Linked DNA regions of Homo sapiens: region 1 is linked to region 2. Evidence: fine-mapped expression QTL. Tissue or cell type: whole blood. Region 2 holds a variant in brackets; the other region holds the start of a gene. All regions are shown on one strand. Distances are between the middles of the regions.

The links. PIP is the estimated chance that this variant, and not a neighbour inherited with it, causes the effect.
Region 1: MSANTD1 starts here. The variant in region 2 is fine-mapped to the expression of MSANTD1 in whole blood (TOPMed, PIP 0.94).

The regions. Positions count from the first base shown.
Region 1 is chr4:3,245,250-3,253,093 of GRCh38, forward strand. It overlaps MSANTD1 (Myb/SANT DNA binding domain containing 1), which reads left to right and starts at 3,910. Exons shown (of 3, transcript NM_001042690.2): 1 at 3,910-4,293. The coding sequence starts at 3,974. RefSeq lists a silencer at 1,288-1,463 and an enhancer at 5,428-6,324.
Region 2 is chr4:3,160,351-3,168,194 of GRCh38, forward strand. HTT (huntingtin) reads left to right here. Exons shown (of 67, transcript NM_001388492.1): 29 at 1-42. Among named protein-coding and RNA genes, the nearest start is that of MSANTD1, 85 kb to the right of the region's middle. The variant A/C (reference allele first, on the strand shown) is at 3,870.

The DNA.
Region 1 (7,844 bases), 85 kb after region 2:
CAGCCTTCCTCTTCCTCATCGGAGAGCACACCCTGTCCCCTTGCCGAGCTGTGCCCTGTGCCTTCGGTGGTATTTGATTTTGGCTGCTACTGGCTTTGTTGGGATCTGGAAGTCGCTTCCCCTGCGTGGTGCGTGGAGCACTGTAAGTCAGATGAGGGAAGTAGCCAGGGTGAGGTGAGTACCGGGTGGAGCCGCCACTGAAGGGACTGGGTAGGGGGGCCTTGCCTCTACATGATGTGACACAGCCAACCGAGGACAGAGGAAGCCCCGTTCCTGGGGGTGTGGGGTGCACCCCTCAGGGAAGCCTGCAGTGGGGCCTGAGGAAAGGCATCCTCCGCGAGCCCACGAGTCTGGTCCATGAGCACCGTGACAGTGTCTGTGGGTAGAGGTGGACCCGGCCTTGTGTCATCACCAGGACCTCTTTTGGGAAACCATGTGGACATCGCTTGCGGGTCCCCCAGGCTCTGCAGCCCCAGCAGCCTGGCTGCCTTTTGGGCAAGTGGCTTGAGCCACAGAGGACCCAGTCCTGTTGCAGCCACATCCTCTGGGGGGGCCCGCCAGTGTGGCCGGCTTTCTCCACCCTACACCAGGCCTCCAGGTGTCCTGGTCGGGGGTGTCTGGGCCCTGGGTGGGCCCTGTGGACCTGTGAGGTCAGGGTCAGGGCATCACTGGAGGCAGAGGGCTGAAGTTGTGGGTCTGGGTTCCCCTTGTGTGCACAGGCCCCTGCCCTCCATGCTTGGTCAGGCAGCTACCCCCAAAACTGCTAGGACAGGCTGGTCCTGAGGTGGATCCTGGCCCCTGTACCCTCTGGACAGCCCACCCGCCCAACCTTCTACCCTGCCCCAGCGGCGGCAGTGTTGGCCACATCCTTCCCCTCCTGGCCCCAATTGCTCTGGGGAAGTCCAGGCTCCGGAGCCTGCCCAGGGGCCCCCCGTGATTTGGGCCCAGGACTCCACGTGGTTCTCTGCCTTCACCCAAGCCCTGAACTCCTCAGCTGCCAAATCCCCACCCATCTGCACAGGCTGTGCTCACCACTGCTGCTCCTGGAAGGTGCCCCTCAGTGGGACGCCCACCTCCTCTCTGGGCTTCTGTGTTTGGGAGCCCTGCTGCCCCCACCCTTGGTCAGTCCCCATGTCCTGCTGGCCTGTCAGGCAGGGCAGAAAATCCACCCAGAAATGCTGAGCAGGATGAGAGTCTAGTTGGGCCCAGCCTCATTATTTAGAAGGGATGGAGGCCTAGGGAGCATGCTTCTAGCCTGAGCCCAGCAGGGCCCCGCCCATGTCCCAGGTCTGCACCAGGGACAGCTCCTGCCGAGGCCTGACCTGCCCCTTCTCCCTCAGGTGCTGCTGGTTGACCAGCCTCTGGCCCTAGGAGACCCCGTAGCGACTGAGGGTCCCAGCAGGCCATGCAGCTTTGCCAAGGTACGAGCCCCTCCCCAGCAGGGGACAGATGTGGGGACCCTCCCAGGCAGGAGCAGCTGGGTGCCTGGTGCTGCCATCTGCTGCCTGCCTGGTTCTTGTCCTCACATTGGAGGTCAGTGTGAGGGCTCTGCCTCGGGAAAGGCCATGGAGCTTGCCCTGTCCAGGGCCTCCCATGTGCACTGAGCCTGGGAAGAGAGGGTTGGAGTTGAGCCTTTTACCCTGGGAATGCTGCCTGGAGGATGGTGCGGGTGTGGGGTGGCACCCTGCCAGGCAGGGCCCTGCCTCCCTGCGCCCACTGGAACTCGGGCAGGCAGGGGTGTAGGTGCCTCCTCTAGAGCCGTCCGGTGGGGGCCCCCGGCAGTGGTGGTGGTGTCCACTGGCCAGCAGCTGCCCCTTCAGCCAGGACAGTAGGCCTGACGCTGTCCCCAGCAGCTCCAAGGTGGATTTGTGGAAGGGGGTAGAGGGCACGTAGAGGCCCCATGACCTCCCCAGGGTTCTGGGAGGGCTGTGCCCCCTTAGCCAGCACCATGCTGGGTGATATAGTCAGATCCTGTTACCCCTGTTGTGGAGGTGAGGAAACAGGTTAGTGGGGAGGACATGACTAAGGTCCATGCTGAGTCGCTAGAGCTGCACCCAGAACCACTGCTGGGACCCCATGCCTTTCTGCTTACCCCTTGTGCCGGGAGATGCCAAGAGATGCTGGGAGCCAGCCCCACCTCTGCCCTTGGAGTCATGGCTACGGAAAGGGCATTCGGACCGGTCCCTGACCTCACCGGGGAGGGCCGAACCCTGTTCCTGAGGAGCCAGGGCTTCCTAGAGGAGGTAGGCCTTCTAGTCACTCCTTCATCTGCAGGCACTCCACAGAGCTCTCTGTGCCAGCCCCCAGCACGGAGGGCTGACCTTAGTCGAGTGGAGATGCCCCAGTGCCAGGCAGTAGGGATGATGTCTCCTGAGGCCCAGATGGAAGGGACTGGACTAGTCTCATGGGGCTGATGGTGGGGCCAGGCCTTGACCAGGGACCCAGTGTAGGGGGTGCAGAGACCCCTCTGAGTTCCTCACACATCCCTGGGGCCCTCCCCATACACTTCCTATCCTGACTGCGGGCAAGAGGGAGCCCCAGTTCGCCTTCCCTATGCTGGGCACCCACAGTGGGGCTGGGCACCCCCGCCATGCCCCTGCCCTGTCCTTCCCCTGAGAGCCTCGGTCCCACCTCCAAGGTGCCTCAGAGGACAGCAGGGGCAGCGGGCAGAGGCCGAGATGCCTCCTCATTCCAGGCTCAGCTGCCCTTCTTGGGGCAGCCCACACCTGAGAGTCTCCTGCAGTTGGTCAGGCCTGAGGAGGGCAGGGGGGTGCCTGCTGTCCCTCTGCTGACCACAGTGGCATTTAGCCTGGGCACCGCGCCCAGCACAGTCCATGCTGCACAGGTGCCGTGGGCTCCACAGAGCCCTGCCTGACATGCATGTGTTACGTTTCGGGTGCCGATGCCCTTGGGCGGCACTTCTCCGGGCAGAACCCCCAGGCCACCGCTCCGGTTCCGGTTCCGCTGCATCTGGGGCTCTCGGCAGGCTGTGGTCCTCCGGCCAGCCTGGGGGCATCTCAGTCCCTCAGCCCCACAGGGGCCTGCCCCGCAGCCTGGGCCTCGAGCCCCGTCTCCGCACGCTGTGCCGAATCTGGCTGCCCATCAGCTCCCTGCGTACCCAGACTGTGCCCTGCCATGCCCGTGGCTCTTCCCAGGAGTGCCCTGTGGCCTCCCCCTGGCTTGCTGGGCTGATTCCCTCCTGTGTCTCAAACAGAGCTCACCTTTGCCATCACTGCTGTCCTCACCGGCCGGTGCCAGAGGCCCGTGTCTGTGTACCCTGTGTCTGCACCTCTGGGCAGGGCCTGGCTCTGACCAACCCGGGCTTCCAGTGTCCACAGACCTAAGGCCCAGGGCGCCTGGGGGCTGGAGCAAGAGAAGCAAAAGGAGCCAAGGGTGGGGGTTTGGGGTTCTTGTGAGGGCCCAGCCCCAGGACCCCAGGACCAGGACACCCAGGAGCCCCAGGGCCCAGCCCCAGTTCAGAAGGCAGGGGCCTTCTGAGGGAGCTTAAGGGTCCCACAGCCCAGGACCCCCACCAGGGCCAGTGGCCAGCGTTGGGGGACTCAGCCTCCTCGTCGCTCGTCCTCTCTGTTTCTCCCACCTTTTGCCCCCTTTCTCCTTGCCTGTTCCCACCCGAGGCCCCCTCTTGGCCTGCGTGAGCCGGGGCGGCACTGAACTGGGGGCCGATCCGCCTGGGCGGCGGTGAGAGGCAGGGCCGGGAGCCGGGCCGCTGGGTTTGGGCCTGGCCCGCTCGCCGCAATATTGATGGCCCGTCAGTGCAGCCCTGATTCCTGTGCTTTCAGTTAAAAGGTTTCTGTTGTTGTAGCTTATGCAGTTGCTCTGTTGCTATGGAAACGTGACATCAAAATGACGTTTCCCGTTTAAAAGCTTTTAACTAAATTCCTGCCTGTCAGATGTAGGCCCCATTTTGAGCGTGGAGCTGCCTTCGAGCGAGCGTGAGCGGCGCCTCCCGCCCATGGTGCGTGGGGCCGGGCCGGGGCCCTCGCTGAGCGCGCTCTCTCACCCCACAGGCGCCTCCGGCATGGCGGCGGCCGAGGGGCCCGGCTACCTCGTGTCTCCCCAGGCGGAGAAGCACCGGCGGGCCCGCAACTGGACGGACGCCGAGATGCGCGGCCTCATGCTGGTCTGGGAGGAGTTCTTCGACGAGCTCAAGCAGACCAAGCGCAACGCCAAGGTGTACGAGAAGATGGCCAGCAAGCTCTTCGAGATGACCGGCGAGCGCAGGCTGGGCGAGGAGATCAAGATCAAGATCACCAACATGACCTTCCAGTACAGGTGGGCGAGCGGGCAGTGTGGGCCCCACCAGGACGGGCGGGCCCGGGCGTGGCGGGCCGCTCCTGACTTTCTTGGAGCTCTGAGTCGGGACGATGTGTGGGTCGTGGCCTGCCTGTCGGTCTCCTCTGGCCGGGTATGGGCAGAACCCCACGGGGTGAGACGGGGCCCACGGAAACCGTGTGTGCAGCCTTCCATTGGGGAAGTGGGGAAACTGAGGCCCAGCAAGGGCAGGAAACCAGTCTAAGAGCTGAGGGGTAGCAGGGGTGGGGCTGGTGCTGGGCAGAGGCCAGGATGGCTCCCAGGACGTATGGGCGGTCTGGGCACTGTCCCTCGGAGGCAGCAACACTCATGGTGGTGCCCACTGACCTCACACCCTGCTCCCCCATAGGGAGGCGGCGGCTGCCAGTGCCCTCCCCACCACCAAGCTCCCAAGCTCAGCAGGGGTTTCAGGGGCCTACTGCGTCATTGGGGAAATTGAGACTGCAAGTGAGAAGGAGGCTCAGTGCTCTGCGACTTGGAGCATCCACTGAGCCTCTGCCATGAGCCGGTGAGCCCCACTGGGGCTGGCCCTAGGGTCACGGTGGGGTATTTCCAGAAATCACCAGGTGAGGTGCAGGACCAGCCAGCGCATGGGTGGGGCTTACGGTGCGAAGAAGAAAGAGGTGGAGGCCTGCCCTGGCCCAGGACTCCCAGCGTGGGGGCTCCCGGCCTGGCCCCACCTCTGCTCCTGCTACATGGCAGGTGGGCCCTTCCTGCCCTGGCAACCTGCAGGGAAGGCCGGAGGGGACCACCCAGCCAGGGAGATGTTGGCGTCTAGGAGGGGACAGGTGTGGTCCCACACACCCAGCATCTTAAAGTGCGTGGGTCCCCAGCCCATTAGGACAGGGTCCCGGGTGGGCAGGGGTCATGGTGGGGTGAAGGTCTCAGGCACAGGCAAGGTCACAGGTGCGGTGAGGGTCTTGCAGGGTGTGAAGGTCATAGGTGTGCGGTGAAGGTCACAGGTGTGGGGTGATGGTTTTGGGTGTGGGGAGGGTCTTGCACGGAGCGAGGGTGGCAGCAAGAGCTGGAAGCTGCAGGGGGAGAATGGCAGCAGAGAGCACCCGGCCCTGTGGGCGGCCTGGACAGGGCTGGGCCTGGGGCTGCCGGAGAGCCTGTCAGCTTCCAGGATGGGAGTGGCCTCACTCAGCTGCTCCACCTCCGGGTCAGGCAGGTGAGCCTGGGGCAGAGAGGCTGAGAGCACCTGAGCCACTTGTGGGAGAGGCCACCCCCACTGCCCCCCTCAGGCGAGGAGCCGGCCTCCAGCACAGCAGAAGGGAACCCCCAGTCCCCAGCCCTAGTGGGAGTGGGGAAGAGGCCCAGCAAGGCCCCGGACAGACCGCCAGCCTGTGAGGTCTCCGCTTTCAGTTGCGTTGATTTGATTTTTTCTGAGCCTTGAAGGAGGGGTCCGGGGCCTGGCCCTGCCCAAAGGCCCCTAGGCAGGCCCCAAAGCCGGGACCTAGGGTGCTGAGCATGACGGATGTTGGGTTTGAGCGGCTGGCTTGCGACGTGAGGGCTGAGGTGTGAGCCTGGGTATCTTCAGAGGTTCGGTGGACACAGGCAGCTGCCCGCGGCCCCACTGTTCCCGTGGCCTCCTAGTCCTGCTCAGGCACCTGGTGAGGAAGGGACGCAGAGGGCAGTGGGAGGTGGCCACGACTGTTCCAGCAGGCTCCCCTCTGACTCAGGAATTCACGGGCACCACCTCCCTGGCTGGCTCTGGTTGGTGTCTGGCCAGGTTATTCATTATTTATGCTGAAAGCCTCTTCAGAGTCCCAGGGGAGGGTTTCTGTCTCCATTCCTGGAGGCTGAGAGATGAGGGTGCAGCAGAGTGGGGGCCTCCACTCCAGACCCTGCAGTCTGGGCTGGCCAAGGGCTGCACCGGTGCACTGCACGTCATGGCTGATGAAGCACTTCCACACCGCAGCCCCTCAGAGCTGCCACAGTCAGCCTTAGTTCACCGAGGGGGAAGCTGAGGCCCAGAGCATGAGAGGGACTTGCCCAGGGCCACATAGTCCTTAGCAGAGGAAGCTGTGGCTGGGTGACTCGATCTTTGTCCTTTTTCTTTATACCCGCAGTCTCCCCATAGCAGAGGCTTTTCTTTTTTTTTTCTTTTTCTTTTTTTTTTTTTTACAAGAACTCTTTATATATTAAGGCTGTTGGGCTGAAGAAGCCTGAGAGGGTGGCTGGTTCTGTGGAGCATGGTTTGTTGAAGTACAGTTTGGGGGCCTCCTACACTGAGAATAGGCCTTTTCTCGTTTCTCCAAAGAGTGGGCTGGCTCAAGTAGGGCAGAGAGAGAAGCCTGGGGCAGAGGTTAGGGATGGGCACCCAGCGCCTGCCCTCACACGCTCTGTGCTGGTGTCTTCACAGCCACGTGCCACCCTGGGCAGCATCCCCTGCTCACCATCTGGCTGTGCCTGTTTGCTGGGGGCACCTCATTCAGAATCCAGCTTATTGTTTCCAACGGCCAATGGCCACACCCTGGCAGGTAGCAAGAGTAGGAGAGAGGAGACACCCACTCCGAGCACAGGTTGGGTTTGGAGCCCGGCCTTGGGGCACTCTGTCACTCAAAGGCAGAGTGGGGAGTGGGCACTGGGCCTTAGGAGGTACTGGGTCCAGTGAGGCAGAGATGCCCCTGCCCCACCCCCACCTTGTGGCTTCTTCCCTGGCCTGGCCAGAGCTGTCTGGCCGCCATGGGGCCCTGTGTCTCCTGCCTTGACCTCCCAGAGGGCAGCCGAGGCCCAGGGGAGGCCTGGGGACTTAGCCTCTCAGGGCAGGACCTGTCTGCAGGAGTAGGTGGGTGCTGGGGGTCCCAGTGGTAATGAGGCATCAGGCAGTGTGGGAAGGGGCCCATCCGGCCCACCCCAGGGCCTCTGGGCAGGTTGCAGGTTGTAGCGCTGGATCTAGGCTCCTGCCCAGACTGTAGGTTCAACCAAGAATGGCATGGGAGCCCAGCCTGCTGTTTGCTTTATTAAATCTGCCCTGTAGCTGGGGGAGGGGCTTACTTTGATCATCACTATGTCATTGATATAAAAATAGAGGCTCAGAGAGGTGAATGAACCTGCCCAAAGTCACACAGCAAAGTGTGGAGATGAGATACTGACTCAGGGCTGTGGACACTGAAGCCTGTGCTCTAACGCCAGTGGCTGTCGCTCCCTGAGGCATTCTCTCCCGAACAACACAGTTATTATATTACAAAATATTATCACTATATTTATATATCTTATAATACCTTATTATTACAATAAAACCTTATTACTCTACCTTTCAAAATGAATTATTTAAAAAGCAGTATTTGCTCATTGCAGAGAGTCTAGAAACTATAGAAAAGCAAGGGAAAAGCAATAGGACCAGCCCCAAGGTCCCAGCATGCACAGATAACCTTAGTAATACTGGGACGTGTGCTTCCTTTTTAACATCTGAGCCCGTGTAGGTCCTGAAGCCCAGCTTCTTTCTAAGTCCATTGTCATCTTGACCCTGGAGCCTGGCCGATTTTGCTGGGGAGGCCCTTGCCAGC
Region 2 (7,844 bases):
TCTCAGATACTAGAGCTGGCCACACTGCAGGACATTGGGAAGGTTTGTGTCTTGTTTTTTCTCCTTGGGTTGTGGCTGGCACACTTGATGTGCGTCTTCTGGGCTGAGTTCATCTAGGATGGAGCCTGGTTCTCCAGGGTGCCTCCGGGAGACTCCTCCCTGCCCCACGTGCTTGCGTCACAGGACCCAAGTCTGACTCTGCCTTAGCCATGAAGTTTAGGGGGAAGTTTCTATTTGTATTCTATTTTTGTCTGTTATCATGTATTAGCTTAGACCCAGTTTAGTTTGGAAAATCAGTGGGTTTCAAAATGTGTTTGTAGAGTCCTTTATTTCTTAACTTGACCTTTTCAAGTGGAAAGGGGCAAAACAGACGGGTAAGGGGGCGGGGCGGGAGGTGTGACTTGCTCTTTTGTGCCTGAGGAAGTAACAGAGCTGGGGTTGACAGTCATATTCTCTGACACAGATAGTCTCTGACTTATCTCACAGAAAGTCAGCGGCAGAGCCTGAGTTAAAAGTCTCGTAGATTTTCTTTTTCTTTTTTTTGGTGGCTAATTTCAGTTTTATTTATATTTGTTTATTTATTTATTATACTTTAAGTTCTGGGTTACATGTGCAGAATGTGCAGTTTTGTTACATAGGTATACACGTGCCATGATGGTTTGCTGCACCCATCAACCCATCACCTACATTAGGTATTTCTCCTAATGTTATCCCTCCCCCAGTCCCCTCACTCCCCATGGGCCCCGGTGTGTGATGTTCTCCTCCCTGTGCCCATGTGTTCTCATTGTTCAATTTCCACTTGTGAGTGAGAACATGCGGTGTTTGGTTTTCTGATCTTGTGATAGTTTGCTGAGAATGATGGTTTCCAGCATCATCCATGTGCCTGCAAAGGACATGAACTCATCCTTTTTTATGGCTGTATAGTATTCCATGGTGTATATGTGCCACATTTTCTTAATCCAGTCTATCATTGATGGACATTCGGGTTGGTTCCAAGTCTTTGCTATTGTGACTAGTGCCACAATAAACATACATGTGCATGTGTCTTTATCGTAGAATGATTTATAATCCTTTGGGTATATGCCCAGTAATGGGATTGCTGGGTCAAATGGTATTTCTAGTTCTAGACCTTTGAGGAATCGCCAGACTGTCTTCCACAATAGTTGAACTAATTTACACTCCCACCAACAGTGTAAAAGTGTTCCTATTTTTCCACAACCTCTCCAGCATCTGTTGTTTCGTGACTTTTTAACGATCGCCATCCTAACTGGCGTGAGATGGTATCTCATTGTGATTTTGATCTGCATTTCTCTAATGACCAGTGGTGATGAGCATTTTTTCGTATGTCTGTTGGCTGCATAAATGTCTTCTTTTGCGAAGTGTCTGTTCATATCCTTTGTCCATTTTTTGATGGGGTTGTTTGCTTTTTTTTCGTAAATTTGTTTAAGTTCTTTGTAGATTCTGGATGTTAATCTTTTGTCAGATGGGTAGATTGCAAAAATTTTATCCCATTCTGTAGGTTGCCTGTTCACTCTGATGATAGTTTCTTTTGCTATGCAGAAGCTCTTTAGTTTAATTAGATCCCGTTTGTCAATTTTGGCTTTTGTTGCCATTGCTTTTGGTGTTTTAGACATGAAGTCTTTGCCTATGCCTATGTCCTGAATGTTATGGCCCAGGTTTTCTTCTAGGATTTTTATGGTCCTAGGTCTTATGTTTAAGTCTTTGATCCATCTTGAGTTGATTTTTGTGTAAGGTATAAGGAAGGGGTCCAGTTTCAGTTTTCTGCATGTGGCTAGCCAGTTTTCCCAACACCATTTATTAAATAGGGAATCTTTTCCCCATTGCTTATGTGTGTCAGGTTTGTCAAAGATCAGATGATTGTAGATGTGTGGTGGTATTTCTGAGGCCTCTGTTCTGTTCCATTGGTCTATATATCTGTTTTGGTACCAGTACCATGCAGTTTTGGTTACTGTAGTGTTGTAGTATAGTTTGAAGTCAGGTAGTGTGATGCCTCCAGCTTTGTTCTTCTAGCCCAGGATTGTCTTGGCTATGCAGGCTCTTTTTTGGTTCCATATGAAGTTTAAAATAGTTTTTTCCAATTCTGTGAAGAAAGTCAGTGATAGCTTGATGGGGGGATAGCATTGAATCTATAAATTACTTTGGGCAGCAAGGCCATTTTCACGATATTGATTCGTCCTATCCATGAACATGGAATGTTTTTCTATTTGTTTGTGTCCTCTCTTATTTCCTTGAGCAGTGGTTTGTAGTTCTCCTTGAAGAGGTCCTTCACATCCCTTGTAAGTTGTCTTCCTAGGTGTTTCATTCCCTTAGTAGCATTTGTGAATGGGAGTTCACTCATGATTTGGCTCTCTGTTTGTCTGTTATTGGTGTATAGGAATGCTTGTGATTTTTGCACATTGATTTTGTATCCTGAGACTTTGCTGAAGTTGCTAATCAGCTTAAGGAGATTTTGAGCTGAACCAATAGGGTTTTCTAAATATACAATCATGTCATCTGCAAACAGGGACAGTTTTACTTCCTCTCTTCCTATTTGAATACCCTTTATTGCTTTCTCTTGCCTGATTGCGCTGGCCAGAACTTCCAATACTATGTTGAATAGGAGTGGTGAGAGAGGGCATCCTTGTCTTGTGCCGGTTTTCGAAGGGAATGCTTCCAGTTTTTGCCCATTCAGTATGATATTAGCTGTGGGTTTGTCATAAATAGCTCTTACTATGTTGAGATACGTTCCATCGATACCTAGTTTATTGAGAGTTTTTAGCATGAAAGGCTGTTGAATTTTGTCAAAGGCCTTTTCTGCATCTGTTGAGATAATCATATGGTTTTTGTTGTTGGTTCTGTTTATGTGATGGATTACGTTTATTGATTTGCGTATGTTGAACCAGCCTTGCATTCCAGGGATGAAGCTGACTTGATTGTGGTGGATAAGCTTTTTGATGTGCTGCTGGATTCAGTTTGCCAGTATTTTATTGAGGATTTTCACATCGATGTTCATCAGGGATATTGGCCTAAAATTCTCTTTTTTTGTTGTGTCTCTGCCAGGCTTTGGTATCAGGATGATGCTGGCCTCATAAAATGAGTTAGGGAGGATTCTCTCTTTTTCTATTGATTGGAATAGTTTCAGAAGGAATGGTACCATCTCCTCTTTGTACCTCTGGTAGAATTCGGCTGTGAATCCATCCTGGACTTTTTTTGGTTAGTAGGCTATTAACTATTGCCTCAAGTTTAGAACCTGTTATCAGTCTATTCAGAGATTCAGCTTTTTTCTGGTTTAGTCTTGGGAGGGTGTATGTGTCCAGGAATTTATCCATTTCTTCTAGATTTTCTAGTTTATTTGGGTAGAGATGTTTATAGTATTCTCTGATGGTAGTTTGTATTTCTGTGGGATCGGTGGTGATATCCCCTTTATCGTTTTTATTGAGTCTATTTGATTCTTCTCTCTTTTCTTCTTTATTAGTCTTGCTAGCGGTCTACCTATTTTATTGATCTTTTCAAAAAACCAGCACCTGGATTCATTGATTTTTTTTGGAGGGTTTTTTTTCGTGTCTCTATCTCCTTCAGTTCTGCTCTGATCTTAGTTATTTTTTGTCTTCTGCTAGCTTTTGAATTTGTTTGCTCTTGCTTTTCTAGTTCTTTTAATTGTGATGTTAGGGTGTTAATTTTAGATCTTTTCTGCTTTCTCTTGTGGGCATTTAGTGCTATAAATTTCCCTCTACACACTGCTTTAAATGTGTCCCAGAGATTCTGGTATGTTGTGTCTTCGTTCTCATTGGTTTCCAAGAAAATTTTTATTTCTGCCTTCATTTCGTTATTTACCCAGTAGTCATTCAAGAGCAGGTTGTTCAGTTTCC[A/C]TGTAGTTGTGTGGTTTTGAGTGAGATTCTCAATCCTGAGTTCTAATTTGATTGCACTGTGGTCTGACAGACAGTTTGTTGTGATTTCTGTTCTTTTACATTTGCTGAGGAGTGTTTTACTTCCAACTATGTGGTCAGTTTTAGAATAAGTGCAATGTGGTGCTGAGAAGAATGTATGTTCTGTTGATTTGGGGTGCAGAGTTCTGTAGATGTCTATTAGGTCCGCTTGGTCCAGTGCTGAGTTCAAGTCCTGGATATCCTTGTTAATTTTCTGGCTCATTGATCTGCCTAATATTGACAGTGGGGTGTTAAAGTCTCCCACTATTACCGGGTGGGAGTCTCTTTGTAGGTCTCTAAGAACTTGCTTCATGAATCTGGGTGCTCCTGTATTGGGGGCGTGTATATTTAGGATAGTTAGCTCTTCTTGTTGAATTGATCCCTTTACCATTATGTAATGGCCTTCTTTGTCTCCTTTGAACTTTGTTGATTTAAAGTCTGTTTTATCAGAGACTAGGATTGCAATCCCTGCTTTTTTTTTGCTTTCCATTTGCTTGTTAGATCTTCCTCCATCCCTTTATTTTGAGCCAATGAGTGTCTTTGCATGTGAGATGGGTCTCCTGAATACAGCACACCAATGGGTCTTGACTCTTTATCCAATTTGCCAGTCTGTGTCTTTTAATTGGGGCATTTAGCCCATTTACATTTAAGGTTAATATTGCTATGTGTGAATTTGATCCTGTCATTATGATCCTAGTTGGTTATTTTGCCCGTTAACTGATGCAGTTTCTTCATAGCGTCAGTAGTCTTTACAATTTGGCATGTTTTTGCAGTGGCTGGTACTGGTTGTTCCTTTCCATGTTTAGTGCTTCCTTCAGGAGCTCTTGTAAGGCAGGCCTGGTGGTGACAAAATCTCTGCATTTGCTTGTCTGTAAAGGATTTTATTTCTCGTTCACTTATGAAGCTTAGTTTGGCTGGATATGAAATTCTGGGTTGAAAATACTTTTTTTAAAGAATGTTGAATATTGGCTCCCACTCTTTTCTGGCTTGTAGGATTTCTGCAGAGAGATCTGCTGTTAGTCTGATGGGCTTCCCTTTGTGGGTAACCCGACCTTTCTCTCTGGCTGCCCTTTCCTTCATTTCAATCTTGGTGGATCTGATGATTATGTGTCTTGGGGTTGCTCTTCTCGAGGAGTATCTTTGTGGTGTTCTCTGTATTTCCTGAATTTGAATGTTGGTCTGCCTTGCTAGGTTGGGGAAGTTCTCCTGGATAATATCCTGAAGAGTGTTTTCTAACTTGGTTCTATTCTCCCCATCACTTTCAGGTACACCAATCAAACGTAGATTTGGTCTTTTCACATAGTCCCATATTTCTTGGAGGCTTGGTTCATTTCTTTTCACTCTTTTTTCTCTAATCTTGTCTTCTCGCTTTATTTCATTAATTTGATCTTCAATCACTGATATCCTTTCTTCTGCTTGATTGAATCGGCTGTCGAAGCTTGTGTATACTTCACAAAATTCTCGTTCTGTGGTTTTTAGCTCCATCAGGTCATTTAAGCTCTTCTCTACACTGGTTATTCTAGCCATTAGTCTAACATTTTTTTCAAGGTTTTTAGCTTCCTTGTGATGGGTTAGAACATGCTCCTTTAGCTCGGAGAAGTTTGTTATTACCGACCTTCTGAAGCCTACTTCTGTCAATTCATCAAACTCATTCTCCATCCAGTTTTGTTCCCTTGCTGGTGAGGAGTTGTGATCCTTTGGAGGAGAAGAGGTGTTCTGGTTTTTGGAATTTTCAGCCTTTCTGCTATGGTTTCTCCCCATCATTGTGGTTTTATCTACCTTTGGTCTTTGATGTTGGTGACCTACGGATGGGGTTTTGGTGTGGGTGTCCTTTTTGTTGATGTTGATGCTATTCCTTTCTGTTTGTTAGTTTTCCTTCTAACAGACAGGCCCCTCAGCTGCAGGTCTGTTGGAGTTTGCTGGAGGTCCACTCCAGGCCCTGTTTGCCTGGGCATCACCAGCAGAGGCTGCAGAACAGCAAATATTGCTGCCTGATCCTTCCTCTGGAAACATCGTCCCAGAGCACGAAGGTGTCTGCCTGTATGAGGTGTTTGTTGGCCCCTACTGGGAGGTGTCTCCCAGTCAGGCTACATGGGGGTCAGGGACCCACTTGAGGCAGTCTGTTCATTATCGGAGCTTGAATGCCGTACCGGGAGAACCACTGCTCTCTTCAGAGCTGTCAGGCACGTATGTTTAAATCTGGAGAAGCTGTCTGCTGCCTTTTGTTCAGATGTGCCCTTCCCCCAGAGGTGGAATCTAGAGAGGCAGTAGGCCTTGCTGAGCTGCAGTGGGCTCTGCCCAGTTCGAGCTTCCCTGCTGCTTTGTTTACACTGTGAGCATAGAACCACCTACTCTAGCCTCAGCAGTGGTGGACACCCCTCCCCCAGCCAAGCTCCTGCATCCCAGGTCGATTTCAGAGTGCTGCGCTAGCAGTGAGCAAGGCCCCATGGGCGTGGGACCCGCTGAGCCAGGCACAGGAGAGAATCTCCTGGTCTGCTGGTTGTGAAGACTGTGGGAAAAGTGCAGTATTTGGGCAGGAGTGTACTGCTCCTTCAGGTACAGTCACTCATGGCTTCCTTTGGCTTGGAAAGGGAAGTCCCCCGACCCCTTGTGCTTCCCAGGTGAGGCAACACCCCGCCCTGCTTCGGCTTGCCCTCCGTGGGCTGCACCCACTGTCCAGCAAGTCCCAGTGAGATGAACTAGGTACCTCAGTTGGAAATGCAGAAATCACCTGTCTTCTGTGTCGATCTCACTGGGAGCTGTAGACTGGAGCTGTTCCTATTCGGCCATTTTGGAAGCATCCCTTGTTTTTTGAGGTGGAGTCTTGCTCTGTCGCCCAGGCTGACGTGCATCGGCACAATCTCGGCCCACTGCAACCTTTGCCTCCTGGTTTCAAGCGATTCTCCTACCTCAGCCTCCGGAGTAGCTGGGATTACAGGCACCTGCCACCATGCCTGGCTAATTTTTTGTATTTTTAGTGGAGATGGGGTTTCACCACATTGGCCAGGCTAGTCTCGAACTCCTGACCTTGTGATCCACCCACCTCAGCCTCCTAGAGTGCTGGGATCACAGGTGTCAGCCACCACGCCCAGCCATATTTTCAGATCTCCCTCTCTTTGCCCTAAACCACTGTGCTTAATAAGTAGTTTTTAGTGGCCAGCAGTCTCCATGTATAACACATTTTAGCAAAATGGAAAATACTATATGTTTTAAATTTGAACGTGAGATTATACTGAAATAAAAATCATCTAACTGGGATTCTTTAAATAGTAAGATTTTCTTTTTTGTATGTGGGTTTTTTTTTAACCTTATTATTATGACTGTCATATATAGAAATGGCTGTTTTTCAGTTACAGTCAGTGAATGTATCAAATGCTGCCTTATCCAAATAATAAAAGTAAATTATTAATAAGTCACAATTTAATGAAGATTGATGTTAGTTGATCTTTATATTCTTGAAATCAGCCATATGGTTGTGTGTGTATGTATATATTTTTAAAGGTACATAAAGATAATAAGCTCATCTCTGAAAATTTTTACATTTGGCATAAGAATAACTGGATAATTAAGCATCTTATTCTCTGGCCTGTGTCTTTACAGTTAAAGGTAGATTTACTCACCTCTCCTTTTTTGTTTTTCTAAGTTCATCTTTTTTGCTGTTTCAAGACAGAGGCCCATTTTAGCTTTCTCGCATATCCTTTTGTTTGTACTTTGGAAGCCTCACCTGCTTAATTGTTGAGTTTTTATCCGTGGTCTTTTAGAGGGGGATATGTAGGGTAGAAGCTTTCACAGGTTCTTGTTTGCACTTGGCCCCTGACTGTTTTGAGGAATCTCCCTCACTGACTCACAGCATGGCAAGGTTTCAGATCTCTTTCTGCCACACAGCAGTTCTGAGGCAGCTGGAAAGATATCCAGATG